Regions from separate parts of the Homo sapiens genome. Here all the other regions are linked to region 1. Evidence: fine-mapped expression QTL. A gene starts in region 1. Each other region holds a variant in brackets. All regions are shown on one strand. Distances are between the middles of the regions. Region 1 holds the start of GCN1 (GCN1 activator of EIF2AK4). Region 2 overlaps PXN (paxillin). Region 3 overlaps BICDL1 (BICD family like cargo adaptor 1). Region 4 overlaps GCN1 (GCN1 activator of EIF2AK4).

Region 1 (5,143 bases):
AGATAATTTTGTGAGGGGATATTTGAGAGGTTGGGAGGCAGGGAAGGCGTTTCTCACTTGAGAAATGACAAGAGACCCAAAGAGGGGGTTAATGGGCAAGAGCTGGGCCTTAGGAACCCTGCCTCACTAGGCCATACCCAAGCTGTCCTGCTTGGGCTGCTTCTGACAGGAAAGGCTTCACACGGACTTTGATATTGTTGGTCCTTAAACTCTACCAAGGCAGGAGGGTGGTGGGTAATAGAGGAGTGTGGATGACCATTTTGACCACTTCCCCCCTCCTTTCAGGTCAAGGCCTTCTTGGCTGATCCATCTGCCTTTGTGGCTGCTGCCCCTGTGGCTGCTGCCACCACAGCTGCTCCTGCTGCTGCTGCAGCCCCAGCTAAGGTTGAAGCCAAGGAAGAGTCGGAGGAGTCGGACGAGGATATGGGATTTGGTCTCTTTGACTAATCACCAAAAAGCAACCAACTTAGCCAGTTTTATTTGCAAAACAAGGAAATAAAGGCTTACTTCTTTAAAAAGTCTCTGGACTCTTAATTTTGTAATTTTTTTTCCTTTTTGACACAGGGTCTGGCTGTTGCCCAGGCTGGAGTGTGGTGGTGTAATCATAACTCACTGCACCCTTGAACTCCTGGGATCAAGGGATCCTCGTATCTCAGCCTCCCAAGTAGCTGGGACTACAGGCACACACCATGACACTCAGCTACTAATTTTTAAATTTTTTTTTTGTAGAGATATTGCACAAGCTGGTCTCAAATTCCTGGCCTCAAGGAATCCTGCCTCAGCCTCCCAAAGTGCTAGGATTACAGGCTTGAGCCACCATGTGCCTGGCCCTTAATTTTGAGGTTTATAGTGCCATATGCTAGAAACGAAAGCCATGGTAAAACCAGAGCTTTGTATTTAGGTGTTGATGTTTGGGTATCTAAATGAAGCTACCAATCAAACATCCTATACAGTTTTCTAGACACAGTTGTAACTATTACACTAGAATTACTGTTTCTATGGCTGCTGCATACTTGGAGTAGGTTTAGTGTCAGCTGAGATAGGCACCTGGTGGATGCTGGGGCCAGTCCCCTAGAGTAAAGTTTTTCAAACTGGGTGGTGCTCCAACTCGGTGGTAACCAATTTATATTTTCGAGATAGTCTCAAATATATTTGAGACTGGGGTGCAGTGGCTTGGACTTGGCTCACTGCAACCTCCGCCTCCTGGGTTCAAGTGATTCTCCTGCCTCAGCCTCCCAAGTAGCTGCAATTACCGGAGGCTGCCACCACACCGGGCTAATTTTTTTGTTGTTGAGACAGTCTCGTCCTGTCACCCAGACTGGAGTGCAATGGTATGGTCTCAGCTCACTGCAACCTCTGCCTCTCGGGTTCAAGCGGTTCTCCCACCTCAGCCTCCCCAGTAGCTGGGACTACAGGCATGTGCCACCACTCGGCTAATTTTTGTACTTTTAGTAGAGACGGGGTTTCACTATGTTGGCCAGGCTGGTCTGGAACTCCTGACCTTGTGATCTGCCCGCCCTGTCCTCCCGAAGCGCTGGAATTATACAAGGGTGAGCCACCGCACCCGGCCTTTTTTTTTTTTTTTTTTTTTTTTGGTATTTTTAGTAGAGACAAGGTTTTGTCATGTTGACCAGGCTGGTCTGGAAATCCTAACATCAGGTTGATCTACCCACCTCAGCCTCCCAAAGTGCTGGGATTACAGGCGTGAGCCACCATGCCTGGCCCCAGTATTTAAAGAGAAAGCAGCATCTGCTGAGAATAGGTGTTTTTGTTGTGATTCCTGTATTTCACTTAGAGATCTGTCTGCTGGAACATGATATATTCATTCTAACTAGGTCTGTGTCAAAGGTTTGAAAGCCACTGCTAACAGGGCTGACAACTAAGCTGTGGAGACCCTGTTCCCTAAATTGCAGCCACGTCTGCACGTAGCCTCTTGCCCTGTGGCCTTCAAAACTCCCAGCCTGGGGCGTCCAGCATTTCCCCAGGGCAGGGGCCTCGTTCAGTTCTGAACCTTCCCTGACCTCCGTATCCAGCCACGTTTGCTAACCCTGTACAAGTCATCCGCCAACTGAACTACAAACTGAGGACAAAAGACTAGTTCACCGACTCTTTTACCTAGTTTTTAGTTCCTGCTATCTAGGAAGCAACACTTGTTTTTCTAAAGAACTTAGTCATCACTCAGGAAAGGCCCACGTAGGGCTGGCCCTGCGGGCTGGAAGTGGGTCAGGGGCTGCAAGGCGGGCCCATAGCGTTACACCGCGGGCTCACCACGTTACAAGCGCTAGTCTCCCACGAGGCGCCCGGGGCTGAAGAGCGGGCCCTGGGGAGGAGGCCTTGTGGCTCGGGCGCGGGCCAACTTTAAGCCCGTGATCCGGCTGCCCGGGCTGCAGCGGCCGCCGTCCTGCCCGGGGGCACCAAGCCCGGGGCCCTGCCCCCGCTGGCTCCCGGCCTCGCCCTGCCGCGTGGGCCACGCTGTGACCCGGAAGCGTTCCGGAAGCGGTTCCGGAGTCAGCCCCGGCAGGATGGCGGCGGACACGCAGGTGAGGCGGGCGGCTGCGGGGCCAACGCGGCCAGGGACTGGGTGCGGACGGTGGCCGTCGGGCGGGGCCCCTCTCGCTCCTCGGCTTAGGGGCGTTGGAGGTGGTGGCTGTGGAGGTCGTAGTCTCGGGGCCGTCTCAGGCTGGACTCTCAGGGCTGCGGGCTTGGCCCGGCCCGGGCGGCGCAGGCAGACCGCGGGCTCGAGGAGTCCGGGGCTCCCGCCTCGACTTCAGCAGCTGGAGCTCGGCGGGGCCTTTGCCCGACCCCAGAGTTGCAGAAGTTCACTTTACCGAGCCTCTACTTCTTTTCTCCAAAGCCCTCCGGCTGTGAGCCCCGGGCCAACGCCAAGTCTTCCTTAAACTTTGTATTCAGCAAATATTCTTTGAGCACCTACTATGAGCAGGGACTTTGAGTGTAGTCTTTGGATTCATACAGATCTGGGCTTGAGTTCCTGCTCGTCGATTTCTGTGACATGCCAAACAAGTGACTTAACCCCGCCAAGTCTGCCTTTTCATCTATAAAATGAAGTTAAAACAATACTTATCTTAAAAGGTTGTTGTGAAGGTTCAGTGAGATAAAATACGGCTTGATATATGTTGGTTGTTATCAGATCCAGGGTTAGTGAAAAGAACTGTCCTGTCCAGGAAGAGTGTTACCTATGGGTACCTTGTAGTTCAGGAAGGACCTGGGAAAACCTTTTCCTCCACCCAGTTGTTATGTTTTAAGGTGAAAAGACATTGTCATGAGGCAGGGGAAGAACAGGTGTCTAAGGACAGCTGGGCTGATTTGGTGTCTCCAGGGTGATGGGATTGATTTTTATGTGTAGGCCCAGAAAATGACCACTTAAGCATTCAAAAAGACATTTACTGAGACTCCTATGCAGGTGGCTGATGTTCAAGTTATGTTGTACTGAATACTAGAAAGAAAAGCTTAGTATGAGAGGGTTAGGGGAATACATGCTGAATGTTTAACATTGATACTCACTTGAGGGAAAAATCTCTAGAGCTGCAATGTCCAGTATGGCAGCCACATGGCTTAAGTTTGTTAAAATTAAATTAAATAAAAAAATTCATTGTTTGGCTGGGCGTGGTGGCTCACCCTGTAATCCCAGCACTTTGGGAGGCCAAGGCGGGTGGATCAGTTGAGGTCAGGAGTTTGAGACTAGTCTGACCAACGTGGCAAAACCCCGTCTCTACTAAAAATGCAAAAAATTAACCGGGTATGGTGGCATGTCTGTAATTCCAGCTACTCAGGAGGCTGAGGCATGAGAATCGCTTGAACCTGGGAGGCAGAGGTTGCAGTGAGCTGAGATCGCACCACTGCGCTCCAGCCTGAGCAACAAGAGTGGGACTCTGTCTCAAAAAAAAAAAAAATTTAGTTCTTCACTTGTACCAGCCACATTTCAGTGCACAGTTAGCCACATGTAGCCAGTGGCTACCGTATTGGGTGGTGCAGGAGAATATTTCTGTATTTTATAATTTTTGTATTTTTAGTAGAGATGGGGTTTCTCCATGTTGGCCAGGCTGGTCTCGAATTCCTGACCTCAGGTGATCCTTCTGCCTTGGCCTCCCAAAGTGCTGGGATTACAGGCGTGAGCCACCGCACCTGGCCTGAAATTATTTTTTATTATTTTATTTTATTTTTTGAGACGGAGTTTCTCTCTTGTTGCCCAGGCTGGAGTGCAATGGCACGATCTGAACTCACTGCAACCTCTGCCTCCCAGGTTCAAGCAATTCTCCTGCCTCAGCTTCCCGAGTAGCTGGGATTACAGGCATGCGCCACCATGCCCGGCTAGTTTTTGTAGAGACAGGGTTTCACCATGTTGGGTAGGCTGGTCTCGAACTTCTGACCTCAAGCAATCTGTCCGCCTCTGTCTCCCAAAGTGCTGGGATTACAGGCGTGAACCACCATGCCCGGCCTTGTCTTCAGTATTCTTTTTTTTTTTTTTTCGAGACGGAGTCTCGCTCTGTCGCCCAGGCTAGAGTGCAGTGGCACAATCTTGGCTCACTACAACCTCTGCCTCCCGGGTTCAAGCGATTCTTCTGCCTCAGCCTCCCAAGTAGCTGGGATTACAGGCACCCGGCACCACGCCCAGCTAATTTTTTTTTTTGTATTTTTAGTAGAGACGCGGTTTCACCATGTTGGCCAGGATGGTCTCGATCTCCTGACCTTGTGATCTGCCTGCCTTGGCCTCCCAAAGTGCTGGGATTACAGGCGTGAGCCACTGCACCCAGCCTTGTCTTCAGTATTCTAAAGGAAAATGATTTCAACCTAGAATTCTGTATTTGGCCAGAACATTTTCATACTTGCAAGGAGTTTACAAAATGGAGGCTGTGCTTCACCCAAACACAAGAAAGTACATGTTCAGGGTGATAAACTGTGCCCCAGCTGTAGAGGATCACATGCCTAATTGGGGCAGGTCAGAAAACTCTGGGAGAGATTTCCTTAGGAAGGTGGAATTTGATGGAATACCTGATCTCCCTAAATGTACTGAGATTTAGACAAATGGCAAAAAGTTTGGGTTTTAATTATTTATAAGAACAGATAAAACAAGTCAAACTGAAGTGAGGTGGGAAAGGGTAATTATTAACACCAGGGGCATAAA
Region 2 (5,143 bases), 29 kb before region 1:
GTGTCTCTGTGCCCCAGGACTGCATCCTCTCACCAATACTTCACCAGCCTAGGGATCTGTGCTCCCAAGAGCCTGTTGACATTGTAAACCTGAATCCAATCCATAAACCAAAAGCCCAGGCTTAGAATCACATTGTGGTGGAGCGGGTGTTTGGTGGAGTCCCTGATTCAAAATGTTTGACAAGGAAGCCTGACCATTTGTCTTCTGTTGGGTGTTTGGAGTCCAAGAGACCTGAGATCAGAGTCCAGCATTGTCACTTCATCCAGCCTTGGCAGTGTGGGATGTGACTCTGCCTCTGAACCGCAGTTATACCATCTGTGCTGGTGGCGTTGTGAGGATGGCAGGTAACAAAGGTGAAGCTCCTGGCCCCAGTGGGCCTTCAAGGATGGCAGCTGCTCCTGCCCCCTACTGGGGTTGCACTCATTCGTTGCCTGCTCTGGGGAGTCCTATGGGGTTTCTTAGCTGGCCCTGCCCATGGTGGAGAAAGAGGGATCCACCCATTGCTGATTGGGCCCAGAGGAAATGAGGACACTGCGTGAAGCCAAGACAGCAGGTGTGGCCCTGGAGAGGCCGTGGGGATTGGCCTGGACACTGGTTCCTTTTCTGCCGTTACCTAGATACCTACCAACTCCCTCTAGTTCCGGTTTGCTAGAGACAGGAAGCCAGGCCTCCTCCATGGGACCCGGAGGGCGGGGCGGGCTGTAGGACCTGAACTTCCTTGGAGGTCAGGCGACCAGACCCGGGGTCCTGGGCCTTGGAACAGACATCCCCTCTGTCCATCTGGGCAGGAGCATGGGGTAGGTGTGGCCAGCCTTGAGGGTAGGAGATCAGGACAGGCAGCTGGGACAAGGTGTGGCCCCATAGACCGAGGCCCTGGGTGAGGGCCTTGCTTCTCTATTCCCTCCTCTGAACACAGGTTGGGGGACTGGGAGCAAGGCCACAAGGAAGGATCACACTGGCAGGCCTCACAGCTTGGGCCTCCAACATTCAGGAAGTTGAACCCTTTAAGTATGGCATCATCTGGTAGTCATAGTGGCCTCTTACAGGCCAGGTTTTTGGGGTTTGGGGCTTCTGAGGAGTCAGACAATTGTGCCACTCACTGGCTTTGTTATTTGGAGCAAACACCTCTGACCTCTGCCTCTCCAAGCCCGGCTTTCCTCATCGCTTCGGGGAGAATCATTTCCAGCTACAGGGGGTATTAGGGGGATTAACGGAGACCTCGTACATGCTGCTAGAATGCCTAGCAGTCTGCCTGCTACTGATAAGTGGCAATAAACGCAGCCATTGCTTTTTAGATGTTTATTATCCTGAGGGCTAGGGATCAAGCTGTCAGCTCCCTGGACCCAGCAGGTTACCGGGGAGCTGAGAGCAAGCAAGTTGTGAACGGGGCAGGAATGAGGGTGTGGCATCCAGGGCCAGGCTGTCTGAGCCGTGGGGCTGTTGAGGGTCCCAGGAGGGGATGGAGGAAGTGGGGGTCAGCAGGTCCTACTCCTGCCCTTCTATACCCTTCTTTTCTGGAGACTGGGGAGACCTAGTGCCCCCCTGTTGGCTGCCAGGTGCCAGGGTAATGGAAGCTTACACTAGAGGGCTGATTTGGCTCCCTTGCCGCTGTTAAAAGCAGAACAGTGGGGGCCTGGAGCCTCTGGGGCCGGGCTGCTTGCCAGACTTCCGCAGAAACAGCCAATGGAGCAGTCTTGCCCCCTGCTCACTGAGGGGGTGGGGACCGCTGCACCAGCCTCACTCCAGCCCCCACCTCCCCGCACACCTTACCCCATAAGCCTAGAGCCTCAGGAGGAACCTGGAGCCTGGGCTTCTGCTTCCACCTGGTTAGGAGGGCAGGGACCATCCTGAGTGCCCCTTCCAGTCGGGGGCTGGGAAAGCCTAAGCTCTTAGAAATCAAGTGAGGGCCTGGCATAGCCAGGGCCCCTCCCTGTGACGTGGGGCCCCTCCCGCCCATTCTCTCCGCGTTGCCCTGCAGATTCAGAGTTCCAGACAGGCACTTCACTCGCGGCTGCGCGGCCCTGTCAGGAGGGAACGCAGTGCCAGGTGCCTGACTCCCAGAGGTAGGAGATCCCACAGGGCAGCCCCAGAGCCCGCCTCTAGAGCACTTTCAGTCCTGGGTGGCCAGAAGAAGTTAGCTTTGGGAGCCGGCTCTTGGTTAGGCTGGTCGGGGCTGGTGGCTTCCTGTCCCAAGGCTGGTCATTTCTCCCATGGGTGGGGCAGGTGCTAGAAGGCATTAACTCTTGAGGTGCAGGCAGGGAGGGCCCTGCCACGGGAGAGTCCCCAGGATCCCGGTTCTCACCTGCTACCCGTGCCTTCTCTTTGCAGACGCCCTGCTGGCGGACTTGGAGTCTACCACCTCCCACATCTCCAAACGGCCTGTGTTCTTGTCGGAGGAGACCCCCTACTCATACCCAACTGGAAACCACACATACCAGGAGATTGCCGTGCCACCCCCCGTCCCCCCACCCCCGTCCAGCGAGGCCCTCAATGGCACAATCCTTGACCCCTTAGACCAGTGGCAGCCCAGC[A/G]GCTCCCGATTCATCCACCAGCAGGTGAGGCGGGGACAGTGGCTGGGAAGGCCAAGGAGGCTGGGGGACAGAGGGAACTTAGCTGGCAGGGGCTTAGGGAGCCAGGGGATGGAATGGAATTGGGGCAGTCGACCCTTCCCAACCAGACACTGCTCTTCCCACTCACCACGTGAGTGGAACAGTGACCAAGTGGTTAATCACAGGTTTCCTGGCCCAACTGTGGAAATTCCCTGGTGAGACTGGCTGTGGGCAGGAGCCTCCTGGGGGTGACTGGAGCTGCTCCTGGCCCCTGTTCCTTTTTCTCCCCTCGGGGTAGCCTCTGAGCATTCTCCTTCTCGCAGCCTCAGTCCTCATCACCTGTGTACGGCTCCAGTGCCAAAACTTCCAGTGTCTCCAACCCTCAGGACAGTGTTGGCTCTCCGTGCTCCCGAGTGGGTGAGGAGGAGCACGTCTACAGGTACTGCCCCAGTCTGCCCAGGGCACCTTCCCTCCTGCTTAGAAATCTCAGGGACCTGGCCAGGGTGGGAGGCAGCGGAGGCCCGGGAGCAGGCATAGCAACTGGGCCTTGTGGGGTTATTCTGGTTTAAGCTGCAGAAGGCCTGTCGGTGGGCCCGTCTACCTCATCAGTGCCATCTCCATGCAGTGGACATTCTGGGCTATCACAGCATCTCCGTGTAGCTGAGGAACTGAAGCAAGACTTCATTCCTCCCCTCTTCTTTTTTTCTTTTTTTTTGAGACGGGGTCTCGCTCTGTCACTCTGTCGCCCAGGCTGGAGTGCAGTCGCGCGATCTCGGCTCACTGCAAGCTCCGCCTCCTGGGTTCACGCCATTCTCCTGCCTCAGCCTCCCAAGTAGCTGGGACTACAGGCACCCACCACCACGCCTGGCTAATTTTTAGTAGAGACGGGGTTTCACCGTGTTAGCCAGGATGGTCTCAATCTCCTGACCTCATGATCTGCCCGCCTCAGCCTCCCAAAGTGCTGGGATTACAGGCGTGAGCCACTGTGCCCGGCCTCCTCCCCTCTTCTTACCACATCCCTTCCCTACCCTCTGTCCTCTTGCGGGGGAAGACTTCGCATCTCCTCTGCCTTGTTCTCCTTGGGAATCTGGGAACTGCCAAGCCAGTACAAGGCCAGAAAGCATCTCTCACTATCTTCTTTCCTTTGCCTCTCAAAGCTTCCCCAACAAGCAGAAATCAGCTGAGCCTTCACCCACCGTAATGAGCACGTCCCTGGGCAGCAACCTTTCTGAACTCGACCGCCTGCTGCTGGAACTGAACGCTGTACAGCATAACCCGCCAGGCTTCCCTGCAGGTAGGACCGGGTCCCTGGGGCAGGGTCTACCAGGGCCCAGGGCCCATCTGCTGACCTCTAGATCCCAGGAGGGCTCAAGGGCTGAGCAGCCTTTTTCTCTCCTCTCTGCAAGATGAGGCCAACTCAAGCCCCCCGCTTCCTGGGGCCCTGAGCCCCCTCTATGGTGTCCCAGAGACTAACAGCCCCTTGGGAGGCAAAGCTGGGCCCCTGACGAAAGAGAAGCCTAAGCGGAATGGGGGCCGGGGCCTGGAGGACGTGCGGCCCAGTGTGGAGAGTCTCTTGGATGAACTGGAGAGCTCCGTGCCCAGCCCCGTGTGAGTACCCACTGGGCCCTCCCCAGGTGGGGAAGGGCTGGCCCAGCCTGCCCCGGGTCCAGTGTCTGTCCCCTTAGCCCTGGTATCACCCACTCCCTCCCGTGTCTGCCATTTGCCAGGCACTGGGGGGATAGTGGTGAGTCACATGGACACCATCCCTGCCTTCAGCCAGTCACTGCCAGTCAGAAAGGACAGACGTTGTGCAGGCTGAGGGCGCCTGGAGCTTAGCAGCTCTTAGCACAGGCTTTGGGGCCACACAGTGGGGTTCACATCTTGGCTCTGACAGTTACTGTCAGCTCTCAAGCCTTAGTTTTCCCATCTGTAAAATGGGACAAGAACTTATGGGATCACTGGGATAAGACCACCTACCTCAGTAAGGGTGAGAACCAGTAATCCATGTAAAGCGCTTGGAATGGTTTCTGGTGTGTAGTGCGTGGCACACATGGTGAGTGCCCAACACGCGAGCTCTTACCAGTGCCGTCGTGTTACTGCAGTAGCCTCACCTCCATGTCCAGTGTTGTGGAGGAAACACAGGGCGCTTGGGCTTGTTTCGCAGGCCAGCTTTCACTTGGGCTGGGGGCTAGAGGAGTCTTCCTGGCACTTCCTGGTGCCATTGAACTGCCCTTTCTTCTGACCCAGTGATGGGTCCCCAGGAGAGACAGGGAGCTGGTGGACCTCCCTGGGGTTGGGGATGGTGAGACCCCAGTGTCCGAGGTGAGAGGTCGATCTGATCCCCGGGAAGTGTGGGGCTGACTGTGGGCTCCCCACTGATGCTGTGCCCACCCTGCAGCCCTGCCATCACTGTGAACCAGGGCGAGATGAGCAGCCCGCAGCGCGTCACCTCCACCCAACAGCAGACACGCATCTCGGCCTCCTCTGCCACCAGGGAGCTGGACGAGCTGATGGCTTCGCTGTCGGATTTCAAGGTGCCCTGTGAACCCTCCATCTTCCCTGCCCTGCCGCCCCTCCCTCATCCTTCTCCTCCC
Region 3 (5,143 bases), 120 kb after region 1:
GCCAAGCCACAGATTGAAATGGCATCTTTGTGTCCTTGTTATCTGGTCACTCACAGAAAGAAGAGGACAGTAGATGGCTGGAGGTGGGTCTCCCGATATTTTCCAAGAAAATATCAGGAAGACTAACGGGATGACTCCCAGAAAAGGGGAGTTTCTTTCTATAAAGATATTTCAAATGTAGGAAATACTGACTGGGGCCACATGTGGTGGGTCACACCTGTAATCCCAGCACTTTGAGAGTCTGAGGTGAGTGGTTCTCTTGAGCCCAGGAGTTTGAGACCAGCCTAGGCAACATGGCGAACCCTCATCTCTACAAAAAATTAGTTGGGCATGGTGGCGTACGCCTGTAGTCCCAGCTACTTTGGCAGCTGAGGTGGAAGGATTGCTTGAGCCTAGAAGTCAAGGCTGCAATGAGCTGTGACTGCGCCACTATACTCCAGCCTGGGCAAGAGTGAAACCCTGTCTCAAAAAGAAATAAAAAAAAAAAAAAAAGAGGAAATACTGACTGAAGTGAAAGGCAGGCTTAAATTCCATCTCAAAGAAACCTCATGCAGCAGCAAGGCGTGAACAGCTTTGAGCCAGGAAAGGACAGGGGCAGGAGCAAGGTTTAGATGCTGCTTGCTTGGTGCTACCCCAGCCCCTACTCCCAAGCAGCACAGAACCTCTACACATGACCACAGTCAACAGGAAGAGCCTTTATCTATCTCCTAGGATAGGTTTTAGAAGCTCCTTTTTGGGTGGGGCTGCCTATAAGTCCTTTAAAGTTTCTCAGATGAGAATATAAATGTCTTCCTTCAGCGTTCTCTAGAGAGATGAAATCGTGATCAAATGAGAAAGGAACAGCAAGGGTAGCAGTAAGTTCTTCTAAAGCAGAAGAACAGGCTGAGAGAAGTGATGGCACTTACAAAAGGGAACTGTGCTGTAAAGATCAATTGTTCCTTGGTTTGCAAACTTCCCTGCCCAGCAACTGCTGGAAAAGCACCCATAAGTAGCCCGAGGGCTGTCAGCATCTACCAGTCAGATTAACTTTGGCTCTGTATAAGGCAGAGTGTCACTGGAGGAAATGGAGGACCAGCCATTCTCATCCCTGCCAATTTTACTTTGGGCTAAAGGACTGGGTTCTTCTCTTGAAGACATTCAGTTTACCTCAACTTCAGGTCACCATTCCTTGATGATCTGATGAAGGAGAGCCACTTCTCACACAGAAATGGGAGAGAGAAACTCAAAAGGGTCCCAAGAGAGCCAGGGGCAGGTGCACATGCCCTGCACTGAACTGAAGGTTGGGGTGCTCACCTGACTGTGGAGTCGCTGCAGCTCTTCTAGGCTTTGCCTCAGTTTACCCCTCTCTCCCTCCATGAGCTCCCTTAGGGCTCTCGAGTCCTCACTGGTCTGCCTTATCTGTTCTTCTAAGGAGTCATCATCAAGTCTCCGGGAGCCCTGACAGTAAAAGAAAGACAGCCAGACAGATATGGTAAGGGTACAGGAGAGATAGGGAAGGGGGAGAGAGATGGTTAGTCGGGGAGAGAAGGAGAGGAGAAATGGGGGAGAGTGGAGGAATGATGTGGGGAAAGATAGTGGGGAAAGATAGTAGGGAAGATGAAGGGAAGGAGAAAAGGAGGAGGGAAGAGACAAAAGGTGGAAGGAAGAAGGGGTCAAGAAGAGAGATTGTGGCCGGGCGCAGTGGCTCACGCTGTAATCCCAGCACTTTGGGAGGCCGAGGCAGCAGATCACGAGGTCAGGAGATCGAGACCATCCTGGCTAACACGGTGAAACCCTGTCTCTACTAAAAATACAAAAAATTAGCCGGGTGTGGTGGTGGGCACCTGTAGTCCCAGCTACTTGGGAGGCAGGAGAATGGCGTGAACCCGGGAGGCAGAGGTTGCAGTGAGCCAAGATGGCGCCACAGCACTCCAGCCTGGGCAACAGAGCGAGACTCCGTCTCAAAAAAACAAAAAACAAACAAAAAAAAGAGATTGCTCAATTTCAACCTGCAAACAGATGTTCACTTTTGTTTCAGGCTTGGGGGAAAGGAAGCCGTGTGGTGGGAATAGCACACCATCACATTCTGACAGCTCTCTTCTCCCACAATGACCTGGCCTCATAGTATAATACCTCCCACAGATCAATACGGCATGGTCAGACAGAACAGCTACCCTTCATATTACTTTACCCAATACAGGCAGAAAGACACAAGTTTTCTGTAGGAGGATGAAACGTGAGGAGAAATAATAGCCAAAAAGCTGGGAGCGTGAGTGGAGGGTAAGTCGGGGAGAAATGTGTCATGAAGCTGGAAGAAATGCCAGACTGCCCAGGATGCCCACGGGAACAGTCCTCTCCTCCACAGGTGGCCACATCTAGGATTCTAAAAGGCCCTTAGAGCTGATCTTCCCAACTTCCTGTGCTCACTTACATTCTTTTGGCGGAAGCTTCAGATCTTTTACTTTTGCCAATTCACAGCTAACCCTACCACTAGGACCAAAGGGCTATAGAATAGCAACTTACAGTTTTTACTTGGATACAAACTTCTATATGCAAAGTTTCCAAGGAAAGCCCTTAAACTGGAAGCTGCCATTGTCTGTACATCACTACCTGGAGAAAAAGGCTCTATGTGTACCTGGTGTGTGCAGGAAGCTGCCTTTGGAGCCCTGACACTTGGCCCCTCTGCCTCATCACAGCAGTAGTTGGTGTTCTCAAATAAGGGCTCACGGCCTGGCGTGGTGGCTCACGCCTGCAATCCCAGCACTTTAGGAGGCTGAGATGGGTGTATCACTTGAGGTCAA[G/C]AGTTAAAACTAGCCTGGCCAACATGGTAAAACCCTGTGTCTACTAAAAATGCAAAAACTAGCTGGGTGTGGTTGGTGGTGCACGCCTGTAATCCCAGCTACTCAGGGAGCTGAGGCACGAGAATCACTTGAACCTGAGAGGCAGAGGTTGCAGTGAGCCGAGATTGTGCCACCTCACTCCAGCCGGGGTAACAGAGCGAGACTCTGTCTCAAAAACAAAATCCAAAACAACCAATAAGGGCTCAGAAGAATTCTTGCAGATATTTTATAGGGTTCCAGTTCCATGGCTGACCTCACCCTATGCACTGGGTTCTAACCTCCCACCAGCCAGCTCCTGTGGGGTAAGGACCATCTCAGACTGGCCTCTTACCGTGGGCTCCATGCCATCCACAATGCTCTGTATCAGTCTCTTGAGCTCATTGAGGGCAGTGCGCAAGCTGCCGGCTGGCACATCCTTGGCGGACGAGGTTTCTGAAGACTCGTCCATGGAGGAGTCCGTGGAGACGGCTGAGTCAGCACTGTCATTGCCTCGAAGGTGTGAGCACAGATAGCGAACCTGGCAGTAGGCTTCCCAGAGCTGCAGTCTCAGCTGTTCCACAGAGAATTACTATTCATTTCAGACTCTAGAGAAGACTGCTACCTGGCCATCTTTTTCTAGCTCTGAACCCAAAATACTGATACCCAAGACACCAGTTCTAGAAGAAAGGGTTTTTTGTTCTGTGTTTTTTTTTTAACTCATTTGTCCCAAGAAATAATACTTATTCTGAACCAAGTACATTTATACAGATTCCAAATTCTTATTCTCCCTGTTCTCTAGCTTCTTCCATTCACAATATAAAGCACTTCTTTATATAATCAGTTATTTTGGTGGGAGTCAGAAAACAATCAGGGGAATGAATGGTTCTGTATTATGAAAAGTGTGAAAAGAAACCAGTTAGATGGAGAAGATGGATCATGACTGCTCTGGAACTCTGTCAGTATAACAGGTATGGAGCTGATGGCACAAGCATTTCCTAAGAGGAACTGGGGTGACAATGAGTGGGAATTGGCTGTGCCTATGATACTCTGTCCTCTAGCAATTCTGCTCAATGCCTTAATGGATAAAGTGGGTGGAAAATGGAGGGCCAGGGACATGCTCCATCAGGGCCTGCTTCATGACACTCTAGCCAGCAGGCCAAGGGGCTGACACAGGCACAGGGGCACAGCCTTGCCAGGATGGCAGCTGAGCACTAGGGAGGAGGATGAGACCTAAGCAACCCCAGGTAGCCTCGCCTGTGGGGTGACAGGCAGGTCAGCACCTGCTCTCGCTCCTGCTCCAGCTCCTCAGCCTCCATGCTCTGCTCGATCTCTGACAGGAGGGATGTGCTGGTGGCGGCAGAGCTCTGCAGACTCCTCTCCTCAGTGAGTTCTTCCACCTTCACCTGCAGCTGTCGGCAGGAGAGACGCACCTCCTGAAGCTCCAGCTGGCTTTGGTGCAGCTTTCAAAGAAAGAGCAAATGGTTGAGGTTTACCAAACACAAAAACCAAGACAAACTGACCCTCAACCTGATCATGCTTCTGGATCCAACCACCAATTTATAGAAAAATAAATAGGAGAGAAGAACATGTTAAACTACATCAGGAGATGCACTCAGCAAAATCCAGATCTAGAAAATTCTGACTGGGCGCGGTGGCTCACCCCTGTAATCCCAGCACTTTGGGAGGCCGAGGCGGGCAGATCACCTAAGGTCAGGAGTATGAGACCAGCCTGGCCAACATGATGAAACCCTGCCTCTACTAAAAATACAAAAATTAGCTGGGCGTGGTGGCGGGTACCTGAAATCCCAGCTACTTGGGGAATGAGGCAGGAGAATCGCTTGAACCCAGGAGGCGGACGTTGCAATGAGCTAAGATCACGCCATTGCACTCCAACCTGGGTGACAGTGCGAGACGCCACCTCAAAAAAGAAAAAAAGAAAAAAGAAAATTCTATAGGACAAACAACTCCATTTCCTTAACAAAAACATTGCAAGGGAAAAAACAGATAAAGGAGGAACACAGAAATAAAAAAAGACTTGAGTTATACCAACCAGGCCGGGCGTGGTGGCTCACGCCTGTAACACCAGCATTTTGGAAGGCCAAAGGGGGCAGATCATCTGAAATCAGGAGTTCGAGACCAGCCTGGCCAACATGGTGAAATCTGTCTCTACTAAAATACAAAAATTAGCTGGGCATGGTGGCAGGCGCCTGTAATCCCAGCTACTCGGGAGGCTGAGGCAGGAGAATCGCTTGAACCCAGGAGGCGGAGGTGACAGTGAGCCGAGATTGCGCCATTGCACTCCAGCCTGGGCGACAAGAATGAAACTCCGTCTCAAAAAAAAAAAA
Region 4 (5,143 bases), 44 kb after region 1:
GTAGGGTTGACCTGAGGCTCTGAGGGGTTTGGCTTTCCAGGAGAACGTCAACTCGCTGTTGCCAGTATTCGAGGAGTTCCTGAAGAACGCGCCCAATGATGCCAGCTATGATGCTGTGCGACAGAGTGTGGTGGTCCTGATGGGCTCTCTGGCCAAGCACCTGGACAAGAGTGACCCCAAAGTGAAGCCCATTGTTGCCAAGCTCATCGCTGCCCTCTCCACCCCCTCCCAGCAGGTACCTGCCATCTGGCCTGGGACCCACATGTCGGTTAGAGAATTGGGACCCGGCTGTGGTTAGGCGGTGGGATACTAGGGGTGGAGTTGGACAATCAGGGCCCTGAAAGCCCAGTTCTTGTTAAGGATTCACCCCCTCTCGCAGGGGAGAGCCTGGTTTATAGTCAGGAACACTCCTGGAGAGGGAGTTTCTTTGTTACTTTGTTCTAGTAGACCTCCCAGATAGTTTCATTTTTTTCTACTCACCTGGTTTATAGTGAAGAATGCCCCTGGAGAGGGAGTTTCTTTGTTACTTTGTTCTAATAGACCTCCTAGATAGTTCCATTTTTTCTATTCACTAACGTGCACTGGGAATCCAAAGGGAAAAAAAATAAAAGGTCAGGCTTTCTCTTATGTCAAGCCTTTTTCTGGCCCTCTACATGTGTTGGTTGTGTGTTACAGGTGCGTTTTAATGTAGCCTCTAAGCTACAGTGCAAATAAATTTCTTTTTCTTTGTTTTGAAAAACACGCATGTATGTATATATAAATATATATATATTTATATATATATATTTTGTGTGTGTGTGTGTGTGTGTGCGCGTGTGTGTGTGGTTTGCATTTTGGACCACTTAGAGTGTCTTCATAAAGTGAACAGTTGGGCTGGGCGTGGTGGCTCATGCCTATAATCCCAGTGCTTTAGGAGGCTACAGGTGCGTTTTAATGTAGCCTCTAAGCTACAGTGCAAATAAATTTCTTTTTCTTTGTTTTGAAAAACACGCATGTATATATATATAAATATATATATATTTATATATATATATTTTGTGTGTGTGTGTGTGTGTGTGCGCGTGTGTGTGTGGTTTGCATTTTGGACCACTTAGAGTGTCTTCATAAAGTGAACAGTTGGGCTGGGCGTGGTGGCTCATGCCTATAATCCCAGTGCTTTAGGAGGCTGAGGTGGGAGGATTGCTTAAGGCCAGTAGTTCGAGACCAGCCTGGGCAACATAGTGAGATCCTGTCTCTACAAAAACTTTAAAAATTAGCCAGAGGTGGAGGCCATGCCTGTGTTCCTAGCTACTCAGGAGACCGAGGCAATAGGATTGCTTGAGTCCAGGAATTCAAGGTTATAGTGAATTATGATTGTGCCACTGCACTGTAGCCTGGGTGACAGAGTAAGACCCTATTTCTAAAAACAAAAACAAAAAACAACAAAAAACTTTACCAAAAAAATGCACAGTTGAAAACCAGTTTCCAAAATTGTGGTCAAATATGGTGTCAGAAAGCCTAAGCAGCAAAAGAGTCGCACCTGGGCACCTGCCAGCATGGCCTCGGGGTTGCTGCTCCCAAGCTGGGCTTAGTGAGCTGCGGCTGGGAGGCAGGATTGAGTGTCTTTTGGTTCCACTCAATTTGTGCCTGGTCCTATAAGGCCCTGCCCAATTTCTCTGTGATTTTGACAAGTTTGGAAACAGAGACACGGGCTGTTTTTATGGAGGCAAAGCAGCACACTTCTCTGGAAGCTTTCTTTCTGAGTGGATTTAGTCTTTAGAGTCCCTTCCTTGGTCCCCTGCCCCACTGCCCAGGCCTAGGTTTTCCATTTAGACCAGAAATGGCACCATATGGGCCAAAGCTTTTGTCGTCAGCAGATTGTAGTGTGCACCCTCAGAGGTATACAACACTGTGTATACCTGTTTGCTTCTCTGGTGCCCTGTGACATCCGCAGGCAGTGGCTGAGATGGGGCTTGGGACATCTAGTGGTGGGTGCTGTGTAGAATGGTCAGACCCCCCACCAACCATGAAACGGCTGCAGCGGAGCCACAGCATTGACAGGTGGGCCCTTCCCCAGGTCCAGGAGTCCGTAGCCAGCTGCTTGCCACCCCTTGTGCCAGCCATCAAGGAGGATGCTGGAGGGATGATCCAGAGGCTTATGCAGCAGCTGCTGGAGTCAGACAAGTACGCAGAGCGCAAAGGGGCCGCCTATGGCCTGGCGGGCCTGGTGAAGGGCCTGGGCATCCTCTCGCTGAAGCAACAGGAGATGATGGCGGCACTGACTGATGCCATCCAAGATAAGAAGAACTTCCGCCGGCGAGAGGGTGAGCATCTCTGAGCTTGGGGCTGCCCAGCATGGGAAGTTGGTCCCCAGGTTGCCAGAGGAAGGAATCTGACCGTGGCGCCCCAGGTGGAGGCCG[T/C]TGCTTGTGCGTGTACTACAGAGGGCCCCGCTGTGTGCGACCCAGTCCAGCTGCGTCCTTGCTGCTTTCCTTGGACTTGCAAATTTTTTTTTCTTTTCTGTTTTTTTTTTTTGAGACGGAGTCTCGCTCTGTCGCCCAGGCTAGAGTGCAGTGGCGTGATCTTGGCTCACTGCAAGCTCAGCCTCCTGGGTTCATGCCATTCTCCTGCCTTAGCCTCCCAAGTAGCTGGGACCACAGGCGCCCGCCACCACGCCCGGCTAATTTTTTGTATTTTTAGTAGAGGCGGGGTTTCACCGTGTTAGCCAGGATGGTCTCGATCTCCTGACCTCGTGATCTGTCCGCCTCAGCCTCCCAAAGTGCTGGGATTACAGGCATGAACCACCGCGCCCGGCCACAAATTTCTAACTCAGCAACACCCTTAGCTGAGAGAGGTTTGGCTTTTCTTTCTTTCTTTCTTTCTTTTTTTTTTGAGATGGAGTCCCACTCTGTCTCCAGGCACAATCTCGGCTCACTGCAATCTTCACCTCCTGGGTTCAAGCAATTCTCCTACCTCAGCCACCCTAGTAGCTGGGGTTACAGGTGCCCACCACCATACCCAGCTAATTTTTGTATTTTTAGTAGAGACAGGGTTTCACCATGTTGGCCAAGATGGTCTCTATTTCCTGACCTCGTGATCTGCCTGCCTCAGCCTCCCAAAGTGTTGGGATTATGGGTGTGAGCCACCGCGCCCGGCCAAGGTTTGGCTTTTTTAACTGTTAGTGCCAAGAAGTGAAGGTGGCTCCCCTGTGCTGTCCTCCCTTTCGCTCAGCCACATTCCTTTGCTGGGGCTTCTTGAGCTGAGGCAGAGGGTGCTGCCTCCTCATGGGGCATCTACTAGTTCCACAGCTGTTTCTGAGTGTTTCCAGAGGGGTGGGAGGTGGCAGGGAGGTTGCTGTCCCTTCTGTTCTCTGTGGCTACCCCCAGGGGACATTCTCTTCCCAGCCGTCCCACCTTCTTTTCCCCTAGGAGCCCTCTTTGCCTTCGAGATGCTCTGCACCATGCTGGGGAAACTTTTTGAGCCGTATGTGGTTCACGTGCTGCCCCATCTGCTCCTGTGCTTTGGGGATGGAAACCAGTATGTGCGTGAGGTAAGTCCCCGGACTGCTCGGGAGAACAGCATGGAAACTTTATGAGATGTGTTCCCAGCTGTGTCTGCAGGCCTTGGCACAGGGTCTGACATAATAGAACCCCAGTAAGCGTTGGTTATAGGAGGAACGCTAGGACTGGTGTCAGGCCTTGCCCCTTGCTTGGGTGAGGAGGCCCCTGAATGTGTTTTCTCCCCCCTTGAGGCTGCAGATGACTGTGCCAAGGCTGTGATGAGCAACTTGAGTGCTCACGGGGTGAAGCTGGTGCTCCCCTCCTTACTGGCTGCCCTGGAGGAGGAATCGTGGCGGACCAAAGCTGGTAAGACCACTCGCTCTGCCTCTCTTCCCAGCTTCCTGTTATGAAAACCAGCCTCAGCAAGGATCCTGGGTAGCCACAGCTCTTGTCCTGTGAGCTCCCCAGACCAGGGATAGGGTTAAGACTCTGCCTTTTTAAAAATTTGAGATGGAGTCTTGCTCTATCACCCAGGCTGGTCTTTACCTTTGGGGCTCAAACCATTCTCACAGGAGCATGCCACTACACCTGGCTAATTTTTGTATTTTTTTTTGTAATGATGGAGTCTCGCTATGTTGCCCAGACTGGCCTTGAATTCCTGGGTTCAAGTGACCCTCCTGCCTTGGCCTCCCAAAGCACTGGGATTGCAGGTGTGAGTCACCACGCCTGGCCAGCTCTCCCTCTGGCAGTTGGATCTTTCTATAGTTTATGTGCTTTCATGCCAAGAAACAGGTCTCTGACAAGAGCCACAACCCTAAGTCAGGATATCCTAAAGCTCTAAAGCTCCTCTTTGGCTTTAAAGTTTTCCCCCCCCAGGAAAGCTCTTTTTGAAAATAACCTTAGGCAGGAGAATCTCTTGAGGGCAGGAATTTAGACCAGCCTGGGCAATATAGCAAGACCCTACCTCTACCAAAAAAAAAAAAAATAGGCCAAGTGTGGTGGTGCATGCCTGTAGTCCCAGCTACTCAGGAGGCTGAAGTGGAAGGATCACTTGAGCCCTGGAGTTTGGGGCTGCAGCGAGCTATAATCTTGCCACCACACTCCAACCTGGGCAGCAGCGTGAGACCCTGTCTCAAAAATAAATAAATAAAATGTCTGGCACCCTAATAAGCAAACAGATAAAAGTAGAGCTGCTCTAGTTGGGGGAGGATCACCATCTAAGGCCCTCCCACTCAACCTCCTTCTCAGTCCTTCAGGCTTCACCCTGTAGTTTGAAACAACACAAATCTAAATCAGTTTCCTCATTTGTGGATGAAGAAACAGTTCAGAGAAATTCAGTGAATTGGCCTTGGATCTCACTGTAAGGATTAAACCAGGTCTTACCTATCCTGGTCTCTTTCTCCCATACTGCCCTGCCTCTCACCTGGGATCCCACTGTTCAGCAGGCCACAAGAGCTTTTTCGACCCCTCTGCTAGAGCCAGCCCCCTCTCCCCTCCTCCCAGTGACTGCTTGAGCACCGTCTGCAGGGGCCAGGGTAGATGTCCCTTGCTCATGTAGCCAGCACAGGTGAGTTGCTGGCCTTTGCTCAGTGATTCAGTACTGGGCTTGTGTCTGCTATCCACAGGGTCAGTGGAGCTTCTTGGGGCAATGGCGTACTGTGCTCCTA

Evidence for each region. PIP is the estimated chance that this variant, and not a neighbour inherited with it, causes the effect. A credible set is the group of variants that fine-mapping cannot tell apart.
Region 2: its variant is the best candidate, but not a certain one, in a credible set for the expression of GCN1 in sigmoid colon (GTEx, PIP 0.67).
Region 3: its variant is the best candidate, but not a certain one, in a credible set for the expression of GCN1 in whole blood (INTERVAL, PIP 0.71).
Region 4: its variant is the best candidate, but not a certain one, in a credible set for the expression of GCN1 in lung (GTEx, PIP 0.51).

The regions. Positions count from the first base shown.
Region 1 is chr12:120,192,077-120,197,219 of GRCh38, reverse strand. It overlaps GCN1 (GCN1 activator of EIF2AK4), which reads left to right and starts at 2,505. Exons shown (of 58, transcript NM_006836.2): 1 at 2,505-2,540. The coding sequence starts at 2,523. RPLP0 (ribosomal protein lateral stalk subunit P0) reads left to right here. Exons shown (of 8, transcript NM_001002.4): 8 at 286-521. The coding sequence ends at 447. RefSeq lists a silencer at 2,208-2,797.
Region 2 is chr12:120,221,563-120,226,705 of GRCh38, reverse strand. It overlaps PXN (paxillin), which reads left to right. Exons shown (of 15, transcript NM_001385981.1): 2 at 2,329-2,555; 3 at 2,873-2,988; 4 at 3,707-3,843; 5 at 3,956-4,157; 6 at 4,948-5,083. LOC124903034 (a long non-coding RNA gene) reads right to left here. Exons shown (of 3, transcript XR_007063487.1): 2 at 2,303-5,143; 3 at 1,285-2,226. Among named protein-coding and RNA genes, the nearest start is that of PXN-AS1, 23 kb to the right of the region's middle. RefSeq lists enhancers at 1-286, 303-352, 970-1,651 and silencers at 1,166-1,460, 1,769-1,818. The variant A/G (reference allele first, on the strand shown) is at 2,532.
Region 3 is chr12:120,070,737-120,075,879 of GRCh38, reverse strand. BICDL1 (BICD family like cargo adaptor 1) reads right to left here. Exons shown (of 10, transcript NM_001367886.1): 5 at 4,079-4,258; 6 at 3,151-3,369; 7 at 1,294-1,437. Among named protein-coding and RNA genes, the nearest start is that of RAB35, 43 kb to the left of the region's middle. The variant G/C (reference allele first, on the strand shown) is at 2,781.
Region 4 is chr12:120,148,305-120,153,447 of GRCh38, reverse strand. GCN1 (GCN1 activator of EIF2AK4) reads left to right here. Exons shown (of 58, transcript NM_006836.2): 33 at 41-235; 34 at 2,057-2,303; 35 at 3,405-3,526; 36 at 3,728-3,842; 37 at 5,102-5,143. Among named protein-coding and RNA genes, the nearest start is that of MIR4498, 4.6 kb to the left of the region's middle. The variant T/C (reference allele first, on the strand shown) is at 2,400.